2 separate regions of the Homo sapiens genome follow, and region 1 is linked to region 2. Evidence: fine-mapped expression QTL. Tissue or cell type: whole blood. Region 2 holds a variant in brackets; the other region holds the start of a gene. All regions are shown on one strand. Distances are from middle to middle.

Region 1 (5,114 bases), 280 kb before region 2:
TGCAGCTTGAGTAATTTCAGGATAAAAATTAGATTGCAGGAGTAATGTAAGTAGTCTATTGAAGGTGATCAAGAAACAGACAAAATGAAAATGACTCGAGGTTTGGGGATAAAGATATGAAAAAAGGGATGGGCATATGAAGAGAACGGAGAAAATATTTGAGATGGATAGACAGTAACACATGAGGGGAAGAACGCAGGGGTTGGGGAGACAGAGGATATAAAAGAAAAAGGCTAACAACGAAAAAAGGTTCCAGAAGCAGTGAGAGGAGACAGTAACAACAGACAGACAAAAAGGGAGGAATCCTTCCTACTCAAATTAAAGGATGGGTGAAAATACAGAAACACAAGGAGGAAACTGTGTGTTAGGGTTGGGGAGCAAAGGGTGCATATCAAATGGCTTCAAAGTTTTCATAAAGTAGGGGGTCTGGAATCTACAAAGAGGTAGGGGTTAGAGGACCAAAGAGCAAAACTGATTTTTAGTAAAATGGCAGGATGTGTTAGAGGATATATAAGGAGAGATGAGGGCAAAAGAGCATCCTCGAGCAACTAAAACATCCTGTTACACGTAACAGGTTCATATAGATGTTAATATATATTTAGTCCAATTACACTACATTTCCCTTACATAGCACAATAAGTAATTTGTGTTTAAAAAAATGATCTGTCGGCCGGAGGCGGTGGCTCACGCCTGTAATCCCAGTACTCTGGGAGGCCGAGGTGGGTGGATCACCTGAGGTCAGGAGTTGGAGACCAGACTGCCCAGCATGGCGAAACCTCGTCTCTACCAAAAAATGCAAAAATTAGCTGGGCGTGCTGGCAGGCGCCTGTAATCCCAGTTACTTGGGAGGCTGAGGCACAAGAATTGTTTAAACCCGGGAGGTGGAGGTTCCAGTGAGTCGAGATCGCGCCACTGCACACTACAGCCTGGGCGACAGAGCAAGACTCTGTCTCAAAAAAAAAAAAAAAAAAAGAAAAGAAAAGAAAAAAGATCTGTCAACCATAAAATGATTTTTTTTTTTTTTTTGAGACGGAGTCTTGCTCTGTCGCTCAGGCTGGAGTGCAATGGTGCGATCTCGGCTCACTGCAACCTTCTCCTCCCGGGTTCAAGCGATTCTCCCGCCTCAGCCTCCCGAGTAGCTGGGATTACAGGCACCGCCATAGTGCCCAGCTAATTGTAGGAACGGGGTTTCACCATGTTGGCTAGGCTGGTCTTGAACTCCCGACCTCAGGCGATCTGCCCGCCTCGGCCCCCCAAAGTGCTGGGATTACAGGCGTGAGCCACCGCGCCAGGCCCGTAAAATGAAATTTTAACCATAGATTCTAAATTGCGTATTCACAGAGTAACTGAGACGATTGCAACTTATTTAAAACTATGTGTAAATCATCTTGAAACAAGTTAATGAGAAAGATCACATGATTAAAACAATAAAAAATGTTGCTTGAGGAATAATGCACAGACGGAATTTAGAAAAAAGGAAAGCCAGAACAACTGCAGACGGTTCTTTTCGCTTTTGTATAGGACTGAGCTCCTCTTCCGGACAAAAACCAGGAATAAGGGAGGTCTTCTTAGTAAAAGCAAAAGTAAATTGTCTTAAAAAAAAAAAAAAGGTTGCAAGTGATTTGGTCTTTCCAGAAAAGTCAATACCATGTCTAACAGTGGTCTCTACTACAATAACCTGAAGGTGCTAATGACCCTCACAGTAAAATAAGCTAGCAAATGGCCACACCGTAGAGCGCCTACATTTACTGCCAATTAAGTCCAACTGCCGCTGTCTTAATATTTTCGCTTTTTAATGAATCCTCTCTCTAGGTATTCCGATCCATCCACCGGTAACACGCTGATACTTCGAAATACTGCAGGCAGGAGTGGACGGGGGAGAAGCCCCCCCCCTCCCCGGGCTTCTTTCGTGTTCGGGCCTCTGCTGCCGCGATCCACGGAAGCAAGAATGAGTTCCATCGCTTGGGGCTCACCAGCTAGAGGGCTGGCGGAGGCTGCGAGGGGCAGAAGTAGCAGCAGGCTACTGGGTGGGCAAGCGGTGTGTACCGCAGCTGTGGAGGACATCGACGCGGAACGCCCGGATTGAGCTCAGAACACACCGGCCCCGCCCGGGACTCATTCTACAAGCTTCTTCGGAAGAGGCGCCCGCCCGGGAGGAAGGGTCTAACCCCGGGCTCCACCGGGAGGAGATAAACTACTCACTGTCAATGTCCTCGATGAGGCTGGCGGTGCCAGGCATATAGTTCATTTTGAACTGAAATAATGCTGCAATGCACAGCGGCGGGAGGCCAGCGCGTCCAAAACCTCTTCCCTCCTACCGCAGTCGCCGCCTCGGTGGGACCAAGCCCGGAATCCCGACCGAGACCAGCACTTCTGCCCCGGCTTTCAGCCGCCGGGGGCTGCCGGAAGCTCCTCCATATTACCCTTACCCACTTCCTGTAACACGTGTGGGCCCCCAGGAAGAGGCGGGGCAGCCGTACCGTTGGGGGACACCCTTTCCCTGTTCCTGTTAAGTAGGTAAGAGGAAACTCCATTGGATAAATGGCGAGGAAACGTATACTCCCTCTTAAGGAACACGGTGTCTTCCTTCGTCTCCGGGTTCCCGAGACCCCAGAGTCACTGACCTCCGTCCCTCAGCTTTCGGGGTTCGGCAGCAGAAGGGGCGGGCCCGGGCCTGGGATTGGCTGGCGTCGTCCGACCCCCTTCGCTGCTCTCCATTCGCAATCGCCCGCGGGCGCCTGCGCGATGGGTCGGCCGTGGGGAGCGGGGCGGGAAGCGCTTCAGGGCAGCGGATCCCATGTCGGCCCTGAGGCGCTCGGGCTACGGCCCCAGTGACGGTCCGTCCTACGGCCGCTACTACGGGCCTGGGGGTGGAGATGTGCCGGTACACCCACCTCCACCCTTATATCCTCTTCGCCCTGAACCTCCCCAGCCTCCCATTTCCTGGCGGGTGCGCGGGGGCGGCCCGGCGGAGACCACCTGGCTGGGAGAAGGCGGAGGAGGCGATGGCTACTATCCCTCGGGAGGCGCCTGGCCAGAGCCTGGTCGAGCCGGAGGAAGCCACCAGGTAAGCTTTGCACCCTCTGTCCTTGCGGGGAGGTGAGGGCCCTTGGGGCTGGGGTTCGTAAAGGATCGGGTTTCATACTTGTTTTCCTTATGTGGAGGAGGGTGTGTTGCGGGGGGTGTTGGAGAGACCGAGACTAAGATCAGAGGTTGGGGGGACATGCTTGTGTTCCCTTTGCCCCTCCTTTTCTGCTTCGACCCCAAAAAATATGTTTATTACCATTTAAAAAAGAAAGATCCTGCGCGGACTTACTAAGCTTAGCAGCAGGCTGCAGATCTCTCTCCTGGGAGCGGTGCTGGGTAGGGGTGGCACGGATCTACTGCTCCAGCTCTAGCAATTTATCCTGCGTGGCTGGCAGGCCGGCTCTCCCGGGGAAGGGAAGTGGCTGCAGCCCCCGATGCCGCTCAGGGACCCTCCCGAGGGGAAGGAACCTTTGCGAGGAGGAGGGATCTGGGCATTTAGCTGTTTGCCCCTAATGCCTTGCCTGAGATCGAATCATGAATAATCAGTGTTGTAAAGTACCTTTACGCGGATTGACTGATTTAATTTTCACGGCGACTGCAAGGTAAAATGGCATTACAGCGGCCCTTTTTTTTGTTTTCGAATAAGGAACCGGGGCTCTGCGAGGTTAACTCACTTGCCTAATACACTTGGACCTGCAACATTTTATTCTCCGTTTTCCTGCCGGACATATACTTCTGCTTTGTTAATACAGTCTTCTGGGTAGTGGGTTGTCGTTCTGCGGTGGCAGCATACCTCTCTGTTCGTTCAAGAATTATCCTCATTTGTTGAAAATGTAATAGTGAAATTCTCGTACATTGCTGGTGGGGATGTAAAATGGTGGAAAATAGTTTGGTAGTTCCTCAAAACATTAAGCATTAGAATTAGTCTATGACCCAGCAAGCCCACTCCTGGCTATATACCCAAGAAAACTGATAACGTATGTTCACATAAAGCTTGTCCGCCCATGTTCATAGCATCATTATTCATAATCGCCAAAAAGTAGAAATGTCGTTTTTTTTGTTTTTTTTTTTTTTGAGTTGGAGTCTCGCTCTGTTGCCCAGGCTGGAGTGCAGTGGTGCCATCTCGGCTCACTGCAACCTCCGCCTCCCGGTTTAAGCGATTCTCCTGCCTCAGCCTCTCGAGTAGCTAGGATTACAGGCGCCGGCCATCACACCCGGCTAATTTTTGTATTTTTAGTACAGACGGGGTTTCGCCATGTTGGCCAGGATGGTCTTGAACTCCTGACCTCAAGTGATCCCCCTTTCCCCTGCCCCTCGGCCTCCCGAAGTGTTGGGATTACAGGCGTGAGCCACTGCGCTCGGCCCCAAATGTCATTTTATTATTTGAGTTATAAAGTGAGTGAACCTCTTGGAGCCCTGGTTCTTTATTCGAATACAGGAATGTTGTAAGGACATAACGACTGATGCATCGATAAACAAAATATGGTGTTAATATATTCATTCAATGGAGTATTATTTGGCCTTAGAAAGGAATGAACTGCTGATGCATGCTACAATATGAATGAACCTTGAAAACATCACACTACGTGAGCTAAGTCAGTCAGAAAGACTGCATATTGTGTGATTCCATTTATATGAAATGGCCAGAGTAGGTAAATCTAGAGACAGAAAGCTTAATGGTTGCCAGAGGTTGGGGGACTGGCGGTGTAGGTGAGAATATTCTTTTTGGGATAATGAAATGTTCTAAAATCAGGGCCTGGTGAGATGGCTCACACCTGTAATCCCAGCACTTTGAGTTGCCGAGGCTGGAGGATTGCTTGAGTCCAGGAGTTCGAGACCAGCCTGGGCAACATAGTAAGACCTTGTCTCTAAAAATAAAAAAATAAAAAACAAAAAATAAGAAATGTTCTAAAATCAGTGGTGATGGTTGCACAACTCTGAATATACTAAAAACTACTGAATTGTACATTTTAAAAGGGTAGAGTTTATAGTATGTTGATTATATCACAGTGTAAACAATTGTATGAGAAAAACATGGAGCAGTGATAAATTATTTTTTATTTTTATTTTTTATTTTTGGGACACAG
Region 2 (5,196 bases):
ATTATAAAAAGTGAAAAGGAAGAAAAGGACAGGAACAGATATTTCCAGCTAAGGGACTAGGATAAAACAATGTATAAAGTATACATTGTATTTACGGAAAAAGGAAGAGACTTGCTTGACTAGATGAATGAATAAATGAATGAGTGAAAAAAAATCAGTCAATGAATGGACCATTAGCCAGAAGCTAGTTTTTGATCCTAGAGAAAAGTGAGGAAGGGCTAAGCTCTGAATTCAATGTTCACTGTTGGTTAACTCCTAGAAACCTCCGTGTTGCTGTTTCTGACCTCTTTCTCTGCCCAACCTCGTAACCACTAAGTCTACTCTTTGCGGAACTCCTTGACCCTCTCACCCACTTCAGGCTCCCTGTGTCTCCATGTCCAGGGCCTGGGAACACAAATGGCACAGCCCCCACCCCACCTTTTACACAACCCATCCCGGGAGGCTCAGCCACGCCACAGCATGTGAACGAGGAGAGGGCGTGGAGTTTCAAGCTCTGCCAGGGTGGATCTTTCTCAGTGCCTGAAACCAGCTACACGGAGCCCTCACCCCACAGCCCCTAGTTTGCAGGGCACAAATGCTTTACATGAAGGCAGTAGATACCTGTTTGGCAAGTGGAAAGGCAAGAACTGTTGTGAGCCAAGAAACAGGAGAAGGGAGGGAACTCTGAGGGTAGAAGTTCAATGTCTCTTGGTGCCACACTGGCAATGCTAAGAGGCAACAGGCCCACTACCGGGGAGGAGGGGTTAGGGCAATTGGCCCTGCTACTTGGCTGCCACCAGCTGTAAGTCAGAGCAAACCCCAAGGTCAGAAGTGGCCCAGACTCCAGCAGGCTTCTCCTAGGAGGAAACAGTTTGGGATTTAGCCCAGGCCCTTCAGATCCAGGTAGGGCAGTTAGCTTTCAGCTTAATTATTTAGGGTGCAGTGGGGCTGGGGAGTATGGTGGGTGGGGAGAAGGGATTGCCTGCCTGCAAGTTGGTGAAAGAGCCAGGCCCAGGAGGAAGGCCTGGGCCGCCCCGTTCAGGAGCCCAGGAGAATGAGAGCAGCTGGACTTCCCCGGTCAACAGGGAAACAGTTGTCTCATTTCCAAGCCTCAGGGAAGGAAGAAAGAGGCAAAGGTGGTGTCTACAGGGTGAGCTGGAGCCCCCAGTGGCCCCGGAGGAACGAGGCATTGTGAAAATAGGGCCAGCTGCTGGTCGGGCTCTCTGACCCCAGACCTCGCCCTCCCGGATAATGACTCCCCAGGACTCACTTCTCCCAGGGCCATTCATCACCGCCCAGACACAAGCCATCACTCACTGCTTCTGCCTGGCCAGGAGCAAACACCCCTCCGTGCTGGGGCCACAGGCTCCCAAAGAATCCCTGATGCTGTCTCTCCAGTTCCTGCTGACCCGACTCCAGGTAGTCACAGGAACCAGGTGATGGAAACCCTGACAGAGTCTTTGTTTGGGATCCCTCCCTTCCCCCACTGGCAGCAAGATCTCTGGACAGCCATTTGTTCTTCCCTGAGAAATTCCTCCTCCCTGACTTCAGGGAGCGGGCCTGGCAGAGCCAGAGTGGAAAATCAGTGAAGCTAATGGTGTAGCAATGCAGAAGCCGGAGCCAAGAACACAGCCTCGGAGTGGCTTTGCTGCGCTTGCCCCAGCTTGGTCAAGAGGGCCACGTGAGCGTCCTCACATTCTCTCACAGGCCGAGGGCTGGGTCCTCCCTGTCCAGCTCTGAACACTTGCAAACACCCCTTCCAGGCACTGGAGCCACTTCTCCAGGGGAAGTGGGACAGAGCTGATCCTCTGGGGAAACCTGTTATGAGCTTAGCACCTTGCAGATTTCTAGAGGCCTAAATCCTCCACCCTTGTTCTCAAGAGGGTCATCTGACATCACCTTTTGCTCCATGGAATTCCATTCGCCTTCTGGCAGGGGATGAAGAAACTCCTCTTACCATCCAGGTTGAATGAGAAGCAAACAAGTTCTTTTCATCATAAGAAATCATGCTGGAGATGGGGTGGGAGTAGGGGAGGGTCTTGCCTGTGTCCCAAGGCAGCCTTGGGACACAGGACCACAGTCCAGTGTAGATGCTAGACTACAGGTCTGATAGTGGAACAGAGGGTGTCCCACTACCAAACCTGTAGTACCTATTTGAGACTCTCCCTGCAGCCAGGCTGAAACGCACACCCCTTTGGGCCAAAGGCAGCTGGAGACGCCCAGGGATGGAGGACCTGCAAGGGCCCTATGATCTGAGGCTAGGCAATGGCTCTGGCACCACGCACAGCCTCTCCCCCATAGGTGCAGGTTTCTGCAAAACACAGAGACAAAGCCCCGCTTTGTGGTGCACACAGGGCATCCAGGGGGCTTGAGGCCAGAATGGAAATGTGTGGTTTTTCCATTAAGTGCAACCTCTCCCCCCTCTAACAAGCCACCAGACTCCTTCAAATCTGGGTGGGTGGGAGGAGCTGTAAAACTCAGCCCATTAAATCACTTCTGAGCTGCAGGTTTTCTGAGCACTGGGGTGTTTAACCCACAGTACTGCTGAAAAGGGGGCAGGACCCCCACCCCAACTACCAGCAGTGGCCTTGCAAGCAGTGTTGTACTCACTCACTGGCTTTGCCCACCAAGACTTGACTTATTGCAAAAGACAGACAAATGCACCCTCTGCAAGCTCAGAATGTTGGGGCTTATCATCTGAAACCGGCTTCAGTCTTTCCAAACAACTCCCTCACCACTCTCAAAGCCTGATCTGAAACAAGCTGAGGCTCTGTAAGATCCCAAACCAAAGGAGGGGAAGGAGAGGGAGAGGGGAGGGAGGCTGGTTTTCCTGGAACCCTTATTAAATCAACTTTCCAAGGACAGCCAGAAACTCCAGGCCCTCCCCAATCCCTCAGGAGCACTTGCAGACTGAGGGGCGTTGGTACTGCGCTCAGTGGGGAGGGGCTCCCGACAGACACACAGACACACA[GACAC/G]ACACACACACACACACACACACACACACACACACACACACACTTAAAATCACAGCAAGGCCTTTTAAATGGGGAAAACTCAGTGTGAACAGGGTTTTAGGTGGTTTGCTCTCACCTTTTGGACAAAGCCCTTAATACATAGATTATAATGTGTTTCTTCTTTTTTTTAAAGACAGGGTCTCCTTCTGACACCCAGGCTGGAGTGCAGTGGCTTGATTATAGCTCACTGTAGCCTCAACTCCTGGGCTCAAGCAACTCTCAAGCAATTCTCCCATCTCAGCCTCCTGAATAGCTAGGACTGCCGATGTGTGCCACGTTACCCAGCTAATTTTTAAAATTTTTAGAGATGGGGTCTTGCTATGTTGCCCAGGCTGGTCTGGAACTCCCGGGCTCGTGCAATCCTCCTGCATCGGCCTCCTATAGTGCTGGGATTACAGGTGTGAGCCACTGTGCTCGCCCTATGATTTTTTTTTTAGGACAACAGCAGCATTGGCCAGGCATGGTGGCTAACACCTGTAATCCCAGCACTTTGGGAGGCCGAGGTGGGCAGATCATGAGGTCAGGAGACCGAGACCATCCTGGCCAACATGGTGAAACCCCGTCTCTACTAAATATACAAAAAAACTAGCTGGGCGTGGTGGCACGCGCCTGTAATCCCAGCTACTTGGGAGGCTGAGGCAGAAGAATCGCTTGAACCCAGGAGGTGGAGGTTGCAGTGAGCCAAGATCACGCCACTGCACTCCAGCCTCGCGACAGAGTGAGACTCCGTCTCAAATAAATTAATTAATTAATTAAAAAATATCAGCATTATTATTTAATAATCAGCAGGCCCAAGACTATGCAATATACTTTACACTTACAAGGTTCCTTACAGCTTACAAAGCATGAAGCCAGATCTCCCCTTAGAATGTCCTGGGCACAGCAGTTCTCTGTTCTGTCACAAAGCTCATGAGAGACAGGCTATGTGAAAGCACCACACTCACACTGAGACGGGGGCTTACTCCACCAAACAGAGACCTGGGGCTTGTTCTCCAAGTGCAGGGGCTTTCCGTTGCTGTGTCCCATGAAACAACATGCTCCTCGCCATGTGCCGTCTCCCCTGGAGGCCCAGGGAAAGGGACCCACAACGGCCATTGACTGCTCATGGCCTACGGACCAGGCAATGTCCTATGAGCTCTGCAGACATGCTTATTTGATATTCACAATGACCTTATGAGCACACATTCATTATCAATATATTTTATAAAAGGGCACAAAGAGGAACTTCCCCAAGAGCCAACAGTCAGTAAGGTGTGGAGCCAAAATCAAAACCAGGGCAGTCCAAGGAAAATGTGTGCCCACCCAGGCTTGCACATGAAGGTTCACAGCAGTCTTATTACAATAGCCCAAACTGTTATACCTAAATTAAGTTGGTTTGGCCAGGTGTGGTGGCTCACACCTATAGTCCCAGCACTTTGGGAAGCCGAGGTGGGCAGATCACTTGAGGTCAGGAGTTCAAGGCCAACCTGGTGAAACCCATCTCTACTAAAAATATAAAAATTAGCCAGGCATAGTGGTGAGCACCTGTAATTCCAGCTACTTAGGAGGCTGAGGCAGGAGAATCGCTTGAACCTGGGAGGCAGAGGTTGCAGTAAGCCAAGATCATGCCACTGCATTCCAGCCTGGGCAACAGAGTGAAACTCTGTCTCTTAAAACCAACCAACCAACAAACAAACAAACCCAGCTGATCTTAAACTCCTGGGCTCAAGTGATCCTCCTGCCTCTGCCTCCCACAGTACTGGGATTATAGGTGGGAGCCAATGTGCCTTTGAAAATTAAGTTGATTTTTAAAAAATGGTCATTTAATGTCAGTCTTCCTGGGTACATGGCTCCTAAGAGCCCCATCCACCTCTCTTACTCCCTTTCTTCTGTTCACAGGGCCGGTACTTTGTCCTCATCAAGATCTTCAGCCCCCAGGTTCCAGCCTCCACCCTGCCCCAGCAGCTTCCGTGAAGCCCCCTCCTCTACTAGCACCCCCACCCTGGCCCTAAAGTTCCTTATACTCATCCCGTCGGGCTGGCTCACAAGCAGCCAGGCCCGAGATCCACTTCTCCCTTCTTGGGCTGCAAAAAAAAGAAAGTACTTTAGGCTCCATTATAAATTCACATTCTCAAACCTCAACTAGCTCCTTGCTACTCTTCCACTCCTTTATCGCTGTCTACAATTGGCGGATTCAAATCTAAACTCCCCTCAAACCTCCCAC

The links. PIP is the estimated chance that this variant, and not a neighbour inherited with it, causes the effect.
Region 1: LSM1 starts here. The variant in region 2 is fine-mapped to the expression of LSM1 in whole blood (INTERVAL, PIP 0.96).

The regions. Positions count from the first base shown.
Region 1 is chr8:38,174,073-38,179,186 of GRCh38, forward strand. LSM1 (LSM1 homolog, mRNA degradation associated) reads right to left here and starts at 2,421. Exons shown (of 4, transcript NM_014462.3): 1 at 2,203-2,421. The coding sequence starts at 2,248. BAG4 (BAG cochaperone 4) reads left to right here and starts at 2,783. Exons shown (of 5, transcript NM_004874.4): 1 at 2,783-3,067. The coding sequence starts at 2,798. RefSeq lists enhancers at 1,389-2,246, 1,826-1,915, 2,247-3,104, 2,326-2,475, 3,386-3,725.
Region 2 is chr8:38,449,250-38,454,445 of GRCh38, forward strand. The region is part of intron 2 of FGFR1 (fibroblast growth factor receptor 1); the gene reads right to left. Among named protein-coding and RNA genes, the nearest start is that of FGFR1, 17 kb to the right of the region's middle. RefSeq lists enhancers at 1,284-2,007, 2,008-2,731, 3,456-4,179. The variant GACAC/G (reference allele first, on the strand shown) is at 2,951.